3 linked regions of the Homo sapiens genome follow. The protein of the gene in region 1 purifies or fractionates together with the protein of each later gene. This does not show direct contact. Each region holds a gene or a part of one and is shown on either strand. Other genes may lie near its edges. The genes, in order: PYCR3, PCMT1 and INAVA.

The links.
Region 2: the proteins of PYCR3 (region 1) and PCMT1 purify together in Homo sapiens (affinity purification with mass spectrometry; 3 studies listed by BioGRID and IntAct, with this or other methods). This does not show direct contact.
Region 3: the proteins of PYCR3 (region 1) and INAVA purify together in Homo sapiens (co-immunoprecipitation; 2 studies listed by BioGRID and IntAct, with this or other methods). This does not show direct contact.

What each region holds. Positions count from the first base shown.
Region 1 is NC_000008.11:143,602,976-143,606,721, reverse strand, and holds the end of PYCR3 (pyrroline-5-carboxylate reductase 3), read left to right. Parts: intron 1-42; coding exon 43-255; intron 256-567; coding exon 568-660; intron 661-839; coding exon 840-1,022; 3' UTR 1,023-3,512; downstream 3,513-3,746.
Region 2 is NC_000006.12:149,801,723-149,805,468, forward strand, and holds part of PCMT1 (protein-L-isoaspartate(D-aspartate) O-methyltransferase), read left to right. Parts: intron 1-477; coding exon 478-657; 3' UTR 658-694; exon of another isoform or gene 695-809; intron 810-1,402; exon of another isoform or gene 1,403-2,071; intron 2,072-3,580; exon of another isoform or gene 3,581-3,617; intron 3,618-3,746. UniProt on the Homo sapiens protein: Initiates the repair of damaged proteins by catalyzing methyl esterification of L-isoaspartyl and D-aspartyl residues produced by spontaneous isomerization and racemization of L-aspartyl and L-asparaginyl residues in aging peptides and proteins.
Region 3 is NC_000001.11:200,911,862-200,915,607, reverse strand, and holds part of INAVA (innate immunity activator protein), read right to left. Parts: coding exon 3,471-3,746; intron 2,072-3,470; coding exon 1,979-2,071; 3' UTR 1-1,978. UniProt on the Homo sapiens protein: Expressed in peripheral macrophages and intestinal myeloid-derived cells, is required for optimal PRR (pattern recognition receptor)-induced signaling, cytokine secretion, and bacterial clearance.

The sequences.
Region 1 (3,746 bases):
CCAGTCCTACAGACTCCCTGATTCTGACCTCTCTCTGGCCAGCTGCTGCCCCCAAACACACGGGTGCTGCGGGTCTTGCCCAACCTGCCCTGTGTGGTCCAGGAAGGGGCCATAGTGATGGCGCGGGGCCGCCACGTGGGGAGCAGCGAGACCAAGCTCCTGCAGCATCTGCTGGAGGCCTGTGGGCGGTGTGAGGAGGTGCCTGAAGCCTACGTCGACATCCACACTGGCCTCAGTGGCAGTGGCGTGGCCTTCGTGAGTATTGCCTCGTCCATCCCCGGCCCCACCCTCGGCAAAGAGGGGGCCCACCCCAGTCCCTCTGACAGCCTCTGCCCTCAGAGTCCAACCTTGAGGCCTGCGTGGTTGCTCCCCAGGCCCACTGGGAGCTCTGCTTGTCCCCGGGACTTCACTGCCTTGGGGATCTTTGAGGCCAGCCCCTTTGCAGACCGTTGGGCTCAGGCCTTGGTTCTGGCCACCCACGGCTACTGCTCTGGGCATTGTTCCTGAAGGTCCTGAGCCCCCAGGCTTTGACACCTATCCCCCCCAACCACCATGCCGCGGCTACAGGTGTGTGCATTCTCCGAGGCCCTGGCTGAAGGAGCCGTCAAGATGGGCATGCCCAGCAGCCTGGCCCACCGCATCGCTGCCCAGACCCTGCTGGTGAGTGAGGGTGGCCCCTGGGGAACATCGGGAAGGCCCAGGCCTGTACCTCTTCCAGTGCGCAGGGAAACAGCAGGCTCGAGAAGCTGGGGCCAAGGTTGGGGGATGCAACGAGGGCAGGCCGCACAGTGGGGACCGCACCACCTCCCCCCGTCACCAGGCCCTAACGCTCTCCTCAGGGGACGGCCAAGATGCTGCTGCACGAGGGCCAACACCCAGCCCAGCTGCGCTCAGACGTGTGCACCCCGGGTGGCACCACCATCTATGGACTCCACGCCCTGGAGCAGGGCGGGCTGCGAGCAGCCACCATGAGCGCCGTGGAGGCTGCCACCTGCCGGGCCAAGGAGCTCAGCAGAAAGTAGGCTGGGCTCTGGCCATCCTTTCCTGCCTCTGTGCCCCTGCCTCTCCCTGTGTCCCTTCCCCTGAGGACTGCGGCTCCCTCCCTCCTGCATGAGGGTCTCCTACTGCTCCTTCTCCCCTTGCACAGGGAAATGCAGGGGGCAGGACTTGGGAGGTTCCAGCAGGCGGGGGAGCCCCGACCAGTGGGGACACTCCTCCCTCCCCAGTGAGCAGAAGGCACCGTGGTGGTGGCTCTGCCCCTTGCTGCAGTGAGCCCACCTTGCTGCAACATTGGTTCTGAGGGGCCCAAGAGATGGCGTCTTGGTCATTTGCCCGCATGGTTGGGCAGTTGGTTGAGGCCATGAACAGAACTTACGGTAACAGGCACGGCTGGCCCAATGCCTGGTCTGGAGCTGGAGCTTGCCTTTGGCTTTCCAGGTGGCTCCGTGCAGCTACAGCCAGGCCGGCTGCCTCATCTCAGCTCTAGGGGGCACGAGCCATATGGGGTCTGCACAAGAGACCCTCTCCCCTGCAGTAAAGCCAGGGGCCCTGGCCTGATGGGGCCCCCATGGGGAGCTGGAGCCTGCCCTGCAGCCTGGAGAAGAGGGTGGCTGTGGTGGGCGTGCTCATCCCCTGCTAAGGAGCAGGAGCTGCTGGGCCAGGTCTGCGGCAGTGCTGGGGTGGCACCAGGTGGGCAGTGGTAGGTGGGGTGGCTTGAGGTCTGGGAGGGTGGCCCTGGCCAGCCAGGACACATGCAGACCCCTGGCTTTAGTCTGGATACAGGCTCCCTCTTTCCTCCCAATCCTAAGCTCCTGACAAGTGGCCAGGTGGCTCTGGGCCCTCCTGCCCCGTGCCTAGGTCAGGGGTCCTGGAATACCCCGTAGCTCTGGCACCACCACACTGGCCTCTGATGGCAAGACTTGGCCCCTCCACCTGTCCCTAACGGACGGCAGGTCAGGAAAGCCAGGACTCAGGGGAGAAGCAAACCCCCAGGATTGAAGGCTAGGGTTCTAGGGCCTTTGGGTGGGGAGGGCCCGGGCCGGACAGCCTCAGCTCCGTCCCCTGCCCCACAAGATTCACCTGGGCCTCCAGTCCCACGCTGGCCCCAACTGCTGCAGCTCTCGGCTTCCGCCCAACAGCCTCTGGAGGTGAGGCGGGAGCATGCCCTCAGCGAGGCTGGGCGGCGGGTCCTGCTGTGCCATCTCCCTGTGCGCCTGAGCAGATCAATCCACCAGTGCAAAACAGGGCTAACGGCACCTGCAGGACAGCAGCACGCTCCATCCCTCATGCTCAGCTGCCTCTGCGGCCACGGACTTCTGCCCTTCATCTGCTCTCTCTTACTCTCCTGAGCCTAGCCCGTCCGTAAGCTCCCTCCCCTGCCTGGTTCCCAGGGCAGGCTGACTCAGTTGACTGCTTGGTCCAAGCCTGGCCCTGGCACTTGTCAGGGTCAGCCTAAGGAGATGGGAATAAAGAGGCCAGAGAGCACCAAGTGAGCTCATGTTTCACCAGAGGTGGATAAAACCAAGTTCTGGGCTGGGCCCAGTGGCTCACATCTGTAATTCCAGCACTTTGGGAGGCCGAGGCGGGCAGATCACAAAGTCAGGAGTTTGAGACCAACCTGACCAACATGGAGAAACCCCATCTCTACTAAAAATACAAAATTAGCTGGATGTGGTGGTGCGTGCCTGTAATCCCAGCTACTTGGGAGGCTGAGGCAGGAGAATTGCTTGAATCCAGGAGGCGGAGATTGCAGAGAGCCAAGATCATGCCACTGCACTCCAGCCTGGGTGACAGCAAGACTCTGTCTTGGAAAAAAAAAAAAAGAAGGTCCAATGCCTGCCCCATAAGTTGAGGCCTGGAACCTTGGTCAAGCACAGGTGTCAGCCGAAGGGGGTGCTGGCACTGTGGACAGCAGAGGTCTCCCCATGCCTGCTACAGGCCTCTACATCACCTGGGGGCTTTGTAGGGCATGGAATTGCAGTTTCCCCTGCACGCTGTCACCCCAGGGGACTGTATGCCAAGCCTGGGCAGGCCTGGGAGCCTGGGGTCTGGTGCAGGCGGCCCCCTGAAGGAAGGTGGACAGCCCTTCTGACGGCCACCTGCATTCACACCAAGCCCATCTGCAAGGAGAAATCATTGACTTTGCACCAACACCTGTCTCCCCCTGGGACCTCTGACAAGCCCTGGGCACTAGGTGAGCTCAGCTCGGGAGGTGGAGATCCCAAGCCAGCCACTCCTGGCCCAGCTGGTGAGGGCCTGTGACAAAGACACGGGCTCAGTTCTCGGCACGGCAGGGAGCGTTGTGGTGAGCCAGGCCTCCCCTGTGCCTTCTACTTCCAGGTGAAAACTGTTCTTCAAGACAGAAAACGATGGATATGATTACGGTATCTTTGATCAATGTTCCACTTTTATGCCCTATGCCCCAACTGTTAATCTAGGGGGTATTCCTGATCCAAGCGTTGGATCAAGAGTTTAAAAATAAGACTTCAAAACAGGGATGCTCATGAAGTGGACATGTCCAGCCTTTATTAGATAAAGCCACTGGGCCCATCTGACCAGGCGAGCTCAGCTGTAAACAAGCTCGCCAGTTAGAGGAAGGGCCCTCAACAGAGCATGACCCCACAAGCCTAGGGACTCCGACATGCTGTTGGGGCTGCTCCCCATGGGTGTCTCAACTAGGTAGGTAAGGGGTTGGGGTCTCTGCAGGACCCCCCCGTCTGGGGGTGCTCCCCTTCCTTTCCTACCAC
Region 2 (3,746 bases), on another chromosome or scaffold:
CAGGCGTGAGCCACCGTGTCTGGCCTTAATTTGTATATACTAAATAAAGAACGTTTCTGCTTTCTGCCTATGGACACTAAAAGTTGTTTATAATGATGTCAAATGACTATTAATATAAAATCTGGGCCGGGCACAGTAGCTCACGCCTGTAATCCAAGCACTTTGGGAAGCCGAGGTGGGTGGAGTACTTGAGGTTAGGAGTTCGAGACCAGTGTGGCCAATATGGTGAAACCTTGTCTCTACTAAAAATACAAAAATTAGCTGGGCATGGTGGCGTGTGCCTGTAGTCCCAGCTACTTGGGAGACTGAGGCAGGAGAATCACTTGAACCTGGGAGGCAGAGGTTGCAGTGAGCTGAGATCGTGTCATTGCACTCCAGCCTGGGCGACAGAGTGAGACCCTGTCTCAAAAATAAATAAATAAAATAAAATAAAATCTGTAACTTGGTGATGTATGTGCTTTTTTTTTTTTCTTTTAGCTAATAGATCAGTTAAAGCCCGGAGGAAGATTGATATTGCCTGTTGGTCCTGCAGGCGGAAACCAAATGTTGGAGCAGTATGACAAGCTACAAGATGGCAGCATCAAAATGAAGCCTCTGATGGGGGTGATATACGTGCCTTTAACAGATAAAGAAAAGCAGTGGTCCAGGTGGAAGTGATTTTATCTTCTGCTCTTTCTTCTTCCACACATGCAAGGTGAAAGGGTGTGGATTTTAAGACATTAGACTACAAGAGCTGTTTTTGGTTGTCACCTTTATGCTCCTCCATTATAACGTCAGAAATTCATTACATTAAAAATGTGAAAAATGTTGCATGGTCTGCCCTTATTTTGGTTTAACATATATATCTTTGGGAAAGGGAGGGTGAGACTTGGTTGGCACAAAGGCTTTTTTTGTTTGTTTGTTTGTTTTTTTTTTAGAGAGACTTTCAGCTTCAATTCAGTACTTTGTAAGGATTTTTTCTTCATTATCAGCCACTCTGTTTTTATGTTTTTAAATTATTTTTATAGCACTGGATGGGCATGGAAACAATGAGTTTGGTCTGTAAAAGAGGCCAGGCGGAGTGGCTCATGCCTGTAATCCCAGCACTTTGGGAGGCCTAGGTGGGCGGATCACTTGAGGTCAGGAGTTTGAGACTAGCCTGGCCAACATGGTGAAACCCCGTCTCTATTAAAAATACAAAATCAGCTGGGCGTGATGGCACAGGCCTGTAATCCCAGCTACTCGGGAGGCTGAGCCAGGAGAATTGCTTAAACCCTGGAGGCGGAGGTTGCAGTGGGCCGAGATTTTGACACTGCACTCCAGCCTGGGAGACAGAGCAAGGCTCTGTCTCAAAAAAAAAAAAAAAAAAAAAAAAAAAAAACAAGGGGCCATCATTTCCTGCCCTGTTTATTGTACCAACAAGGAGAAAGAAGGGGAAAGATAACGGTCGTCTCAGTTTTCTAAAATGTCAGAATACCAGAGAGGACATTCTACCTCTCAGCTTGGTTTATCTGTTTCAACCAAATCATAGATACCTGACAGCCCATGCCTATTTTTCATTCAGCCTTGTTTAAGAGTCACCTTCTCCCCATTCTATAGAATAGGCCAGCCACTGTTTAAGCTATTCTGGCTAAATTCCTAGGAAGAGGCAAGGATTCTACAAGTTACCCAATGAGTGCCCAGGTCTCACAAACCCACCCAGAGGGTCAGCAGCATGCAGCAACTTTCAGCACAGCATGGTTTATAAAGAATGTCCACTTTTGTTTTATGTCTCAGCATAATCTGAATATTTTGTTTGAAGCCAAGATTTCTCTTTTCCTCCCCTTCCCACTCCCTTCCATGAGAGAGAGTGACATCAGTACATAACAGTGCCATTAGCTCAAATTACTTGAAATTAAATGCCAAAACAAGAACGGCTTTACAGTTTCCTTGTCTTAGCATCTTATTTTTATTTGACATAAAGATTCTTATTTTAAAATAATTAGTTTCTTAATAAGTAAAAGGGGTGATAATAAGTTTAATAGATCTCTCAATGTTGTTTTTATTCTTCACCAATAGCTATTTTCTGTGAATTATACGTGGAGCACAGCCACTGGAAAAAAAAAAAAAAAAAAAAGCATTTTAGTCCAGGCATTTTGGGAGGCTGAGGTGAGCCAATCATCTTAAGTCAGGAGTTTGAGACCAGCCTGGCCAACATGGTGAAACCCTGTCTCTACTAAAAACACAAAAATTAGCTGGGCATGTTGGCTTGCATCTGTAGTCCCAGGCACTCAGGAGGCTGAGGCAGGAGAATTGTTTGAACCCAGGAGGCAGAGGTTGCAGTGAGTCGAGATCACACTACTGCCTTCTAGCCTGGGTGACAGAGCGAGACTCTGTCTCAAAAAAAAAAAAAAAAAAAAAAATTAAAAAGGCATTTAAAAAATTACTGGTTTTTTCAACTGGAATCAGATGTAGTTATTAACAACTAACTAAAACCTTCCTTCACTTTGCTTCTAGTATGGTTTATACAATTACATAATTGTGAGATTATTGTAGTATAAAAGGGGCAAATATGTTACTGAAATTACTGAAATTTGATAAGAAGAGTTGATTTTCATTAGCAACTTAGAAATTTTTCTTTTTATATACAATAAATATTAGTGTTGAACATCTTGCCTATAATTTATAATTTATAATTATGAAGGAATTATAAAAAGGGAATTTTGTTTTTATGACTAGAGGTAGATTTACTGTGAAGCTAACAAAGCTGAAGCTGCAGAGCCCTTGCTTGTCTAGGTTTTCTCTGACCCTGTTCTTAATTTAATTTAATTTAAAAAAGTGTTTTTTTTGAGACGGAGTCCTGCTCTGTTACCCAGGCTGTGTAGAGCAGTGGTGCAATCTCAGCTCACTACAACCTCCGTCTCCCAGGTTCAAGCAATTCTCCTGCCTCAGCTTCCCAAGTAGCTGAGAGTATAGGCGCCCAGCTAAATTTTGTATTTTTAGTAGAGAAGGGGTTTCACCATGTTGGCCAGGCTGGTCTCGAACTCCTGACCTCAGGTGATCTGCCCGCCTCGGCCTCCCAAAGTGCTAGGATTACAGGTGTCAGCCACCATGCCTGGCCCTGTTCTTAATTTTATATTATGCATAGTCTTACTGATTTTTTTTTTAACTTCATAAAAAGGTTCCCCTGTTTTCTAATTATATAAACCTTAGGCCCCCACAAAACCTGAATCCACCTTTGATAAAACCAAACTATTTGTATTAAGAAATTTAAAATAGGGCCAGGTATGGTGGCTTATGCCTGTAATCCCAATGCTTTGGGAGGTTGAGGTGGGAGGATCACTTGAGGCCAGAAGTTCAAGAGAAGCCTGGGAAACATAGTGAGACCTCGTATCTACTAAAAATTTAAGAACTAGCCAGGCGTAGTGGTGTGCACCTCTAGTTCTGGCTACTTGGGAGGCTGAGATAAGAGGATCACTTAAGCCCAGAAGCGGCAGTGAGCTGTGATCACCACAGCATTCCAGGCTGGGCAACAGAGCAAGACCTTATCTTTAAAAAATATATTTAGAATAATTTTTAAATTTATGGACAATTAGTCATCTGCTAAACATTAAATGTATACCTGCTTTTAGGCTGGGCGCAGTGGCTCACGCCTGTAATCCCAGCACTTTGGGAGGCCAAGGCGGGCAGATCACAAGGTCAGGAGATCGAGACCATCCTGGGTAACATGGCGAAACCCCGTCTCTCCTAAAAATACAAAAAAATTAGCCGGGCGTGGTGGCAGGTAC
Region 3 (3,746 bases), on another chromosome or scaffold:
GTAAAGGACGCTTAGGTGTGGAGGGCCAGTGCTCAGCCGTCTCCTGGCTCAGAACAAGGCACTCTGGGCTCCAGTTAGGACACTGAGAGGCCAGGGAAACCAACATGCCCTGGAGAAAGGGGCTTAGAGACAAACCGGAAAAGCACAGCATCCAAGCAGGGTATTCACGCATGGGGGGCAGAGTAGGCCCAAAAGTTGGGGGTTGCTGATGCGGTAAGAGCACAGTGAGAGAAATGCCAGGTGCATCCCTTCAGCCTCCTGCATCCTCCCCCAGGTTCCTTTGATGGGCCATCCTGGGTCTTCCCTTGGCACCCTTGTGCAATCGGCTACATCGTTTTCTTTCCAGTAGAGAGAACTGTGCCTCTTCTAGGTCAGACACCAGAGTTCTTGGAACCTTCTGCTATATTCACAGTCTGTTCCAGTCCAGGTAACATGGGGGCAGAGAGTTCTGCACAGGTGAAGTCAGAACTCAGCTCTCCCTACCTCTCCTAGCCTCAATTCAGTTGCTTTCTCATTGAAGCAGGTCCCCTGACCTGGAAGCAAAGAAGGCCCTAGGATGAGAACCCAGGGACAGCTGGGTGGTCTTAGCACAGGCAGCTTCCAGACTTGCTCCAGTCGCTGCAGCTGGGACAATTAATGAATGCCCCCAAAGAAAATTCAGCATCTCATCAGCCCTTGGGAGTGAGTATGTCCATGTTTGTATAAATAACCACCTTCTCAGAGCAGAAGCATAGCTGGTGGGGGGAGTAGGAACTGTGACTCCCTCTCCCAACCAGAACATGCCACAAAAGTGGTGCCTTTCCAAAACCACTTGTAAAGTATTGGTTTTTGGGACTATGATGAAAAAACGTTAGAAGGGCCAGGTGCGGTGGCTCATGCCTGTAATCCCAGCACTTTGAAAGGCCAAGGCAGGTGGATCACTTGAGGTCAGGAGTTCGAGACCAGCCTGGCCAACATGATGAAACCCCATCTCTACTAAAAATAAAAAATTAGCAGGCATGGTGGTGCTTGCCTGTAATCCCAGCTACTCGGAAGGCTGAGGCAGGAGATTCGCTTGAACCCGGGAGACGGGGGTTGCAGTGAGCCGAAATCTTGCTACAGCATTCCAGCCTGGGCGACAGAGCGAGACTCCATCTCAAAAACAAACAAAATGTTAGAAGGAGCAGTGGGGCTGCAAGCCCTTGAGATGCCCAGAGGTAGCTGTCAAAGGGTGGCTGCTGTCCACTAACCACAAGCATGGACCAGCCCCCAGCCAGACCCCCTGAGGCTACAAACTGTGATGCCACTGACTCAAAGCTCAGGGGTCTGGGAGCCCACAGGGCATAGACAGGGTATAGTGACTGGGTCCCTAAAGAGGATTTAGGGGGTCAGGAAAATAGCAGGGTCTAGCAAGACAATACACCACCGGGATATACTGACCTTTGACCTACCACTTGGTGTGTGCATCACAGAGCACATTAGAAAAGGGGGAAGAGATTCTCCCCCAGCCCAGGCTGGGGTACCCAGAGACCTGGGAAATGGGGGAGAGTCATGTGCATGAGTATGTACCATGTCCAGCCTCCAGCAATAGTGGGACAGGAGGGCCAGGGGCAGTTCCCCAGGGAATTTCTTAGAACCAGAGCACAGAGCGTTGGAGAACTCCCAAGGTGGCTCACTCTGCTTCACTCGTCCCCTGCCACTTGTCTTATATAAGGAGATAGAGGCTGTCAGTCAGACAGGCAAGGCCTTAAGTCCAGTAGGCCAAACTCTGGGGGATAAAACATAATCATATCACAGGGGTATTGAGGACAATCCACATATATAAATCCTTAGGTCAGGGCTTCTGAAAAAAGTCGTGTAAAAAAAAAATAATAAAAGGTCTCAGCTCCAGGTCATCGGCCTGCGATGGGGATGGGGGAGCTGAAAGAGGCACTCAGGGGTGGGGGGGTCTCAGCCCAGCCCCTCTATGAAACAGTTTTTTCCAGCGTGGGGCGCAGAGTTACACCTGGCTGATGATCTCTCCTTTTTCAGGTACAAAGACTTGCACAGGGGCCCCATCAGGCGATCTCCGCAGCACACAAACTGTGGGCACCTGCCAGGGTCAGGAAGAAAGGACAGGTGGGTAAATGAACCAGGCAGAAAAGCGGGGACAGCAGGCACAGTTACACCATCCTTATCCCTTAGGGACACTGACCAGCAGAAGCAGCAGCAGCAGCAGGCCCTGGCACTCAGCCCCTTCCTCCCAGGATGCTCTCTGTTCTTCAGGGACCCCCTTTACACATTTTCCTCCATGTTCTTTTGGGGTGTGACAGGCGCCCTGACCTCCTCCTCCCCCACCTTTCCTGGGCTCACTTCTCATCACCCTCCCTGTCTGGCACGTTGGGATGGGCTGGGTCTATCCAGCCAAGGACAGGCCCAAGCGCGCAGAAAGGGAAAAGCACGTCAGCTGGAGGGCGCGGCCTCGGACCGGGGCCAGGGTGCTGCCAGGCCCAGGATGCCAGCTGCAGTCCAAAGAACCGTGGGTGGGGGAGGGACACGCAGCTGGGTCTGCTGGGAATCTGGGGTCTCAAAGAAGCAGCTTGTTGGTAACTTCTGGAGCACATCACCTGCAGAGCCCTCCGTACCAGGGAGAAAGAATAAAGAAAGGATTCCTGTGTGTGGCTCCCCACTTCCAGAATGAAGAAATAGGGGCCAAGGAAACCAAGGCTGCCACCCTACCCAGTGTCAGGGTGCTCTATCCTATATACTACCCTCCAGCCTGCTCCCTGGCCTCTGTGGCCCCAGATGATAATAATATCACATATCTAGCGCTTACCATGCATTGCTCTAATCATTTCAGCCTCTTGGCAGCCCTATGAGATAGGTACTCTACTACTCTCATTTCACAGGGGAGGAAACACTAGGTCCAAAGGGGTTAAGTAACTTGCCCAATCATACAGCTCGTAAGTGGCAGAACTGGGATTTGAACCTGGTGGTCTAGCTTGAGGGTGGGTGCTCTTAACTCTGATGCCACCCTTCTTCTCGGCTTGGTGGTGAGGAGGGGTGTCAGGGAGGATGCTGATGCCCAGAAAATCACAGGTTCTGGCTTCTGCAACTCATTTCCTACTCTCCCTTTGTCCTAGACCTTCAAATGGAAATCTGAGGGGCTGATTTGGACTGGACTTTTGATTATGAAGAGGCTTATCTGCTTTGTGCATCATCATTTAGGGAGAGAAAAAGTCTCAGCTATCTTCGGGGATCATCTCCACCAGTGTATATGCTCTTGAGCTAGACATGGCAGGCAAAATTAGGAGGTGCCCCAGGGAAGCCAAGAGTGCCTTCCAAAGCCAAGAGGAAATGATTTTTTGGCCTGTTCTTCCTAGACGGGGATTACCCGGCCACTAGGTTGCTGCTTTGATGCCTCTGTACCCTTGGACATACTAGAATTGCAGCCCCTCCCCAACAAAACAGCCCTCCTGCCTGGCCCCGGGGTCCCTCCAGAGCAGCCGTACCTGTGCCCGGGGTCCCAGGGCTCGTCCGAAGCCCTCTCTCCCAAGGGGCAGGCTCCTGACCCGGAAAGCTCCTTGGCGGTCCAGTGAGTGGGGGCGGGTGCTCCGGAGGCGTGCACGCTCGTGCCACCACTTGAGCTCCTCGGACACGGCGGCCTTGCTGAGCCCCCGGCCTGCCGGGCTGTCCTTCAGGGAGGGCGTCCGCACGATGCGGCTGCGGGAGGGCACCAGACGCTGGTAGCGCAGGGGAGTGCCCTCCTCCTCGTAAGCAGGGCCCGG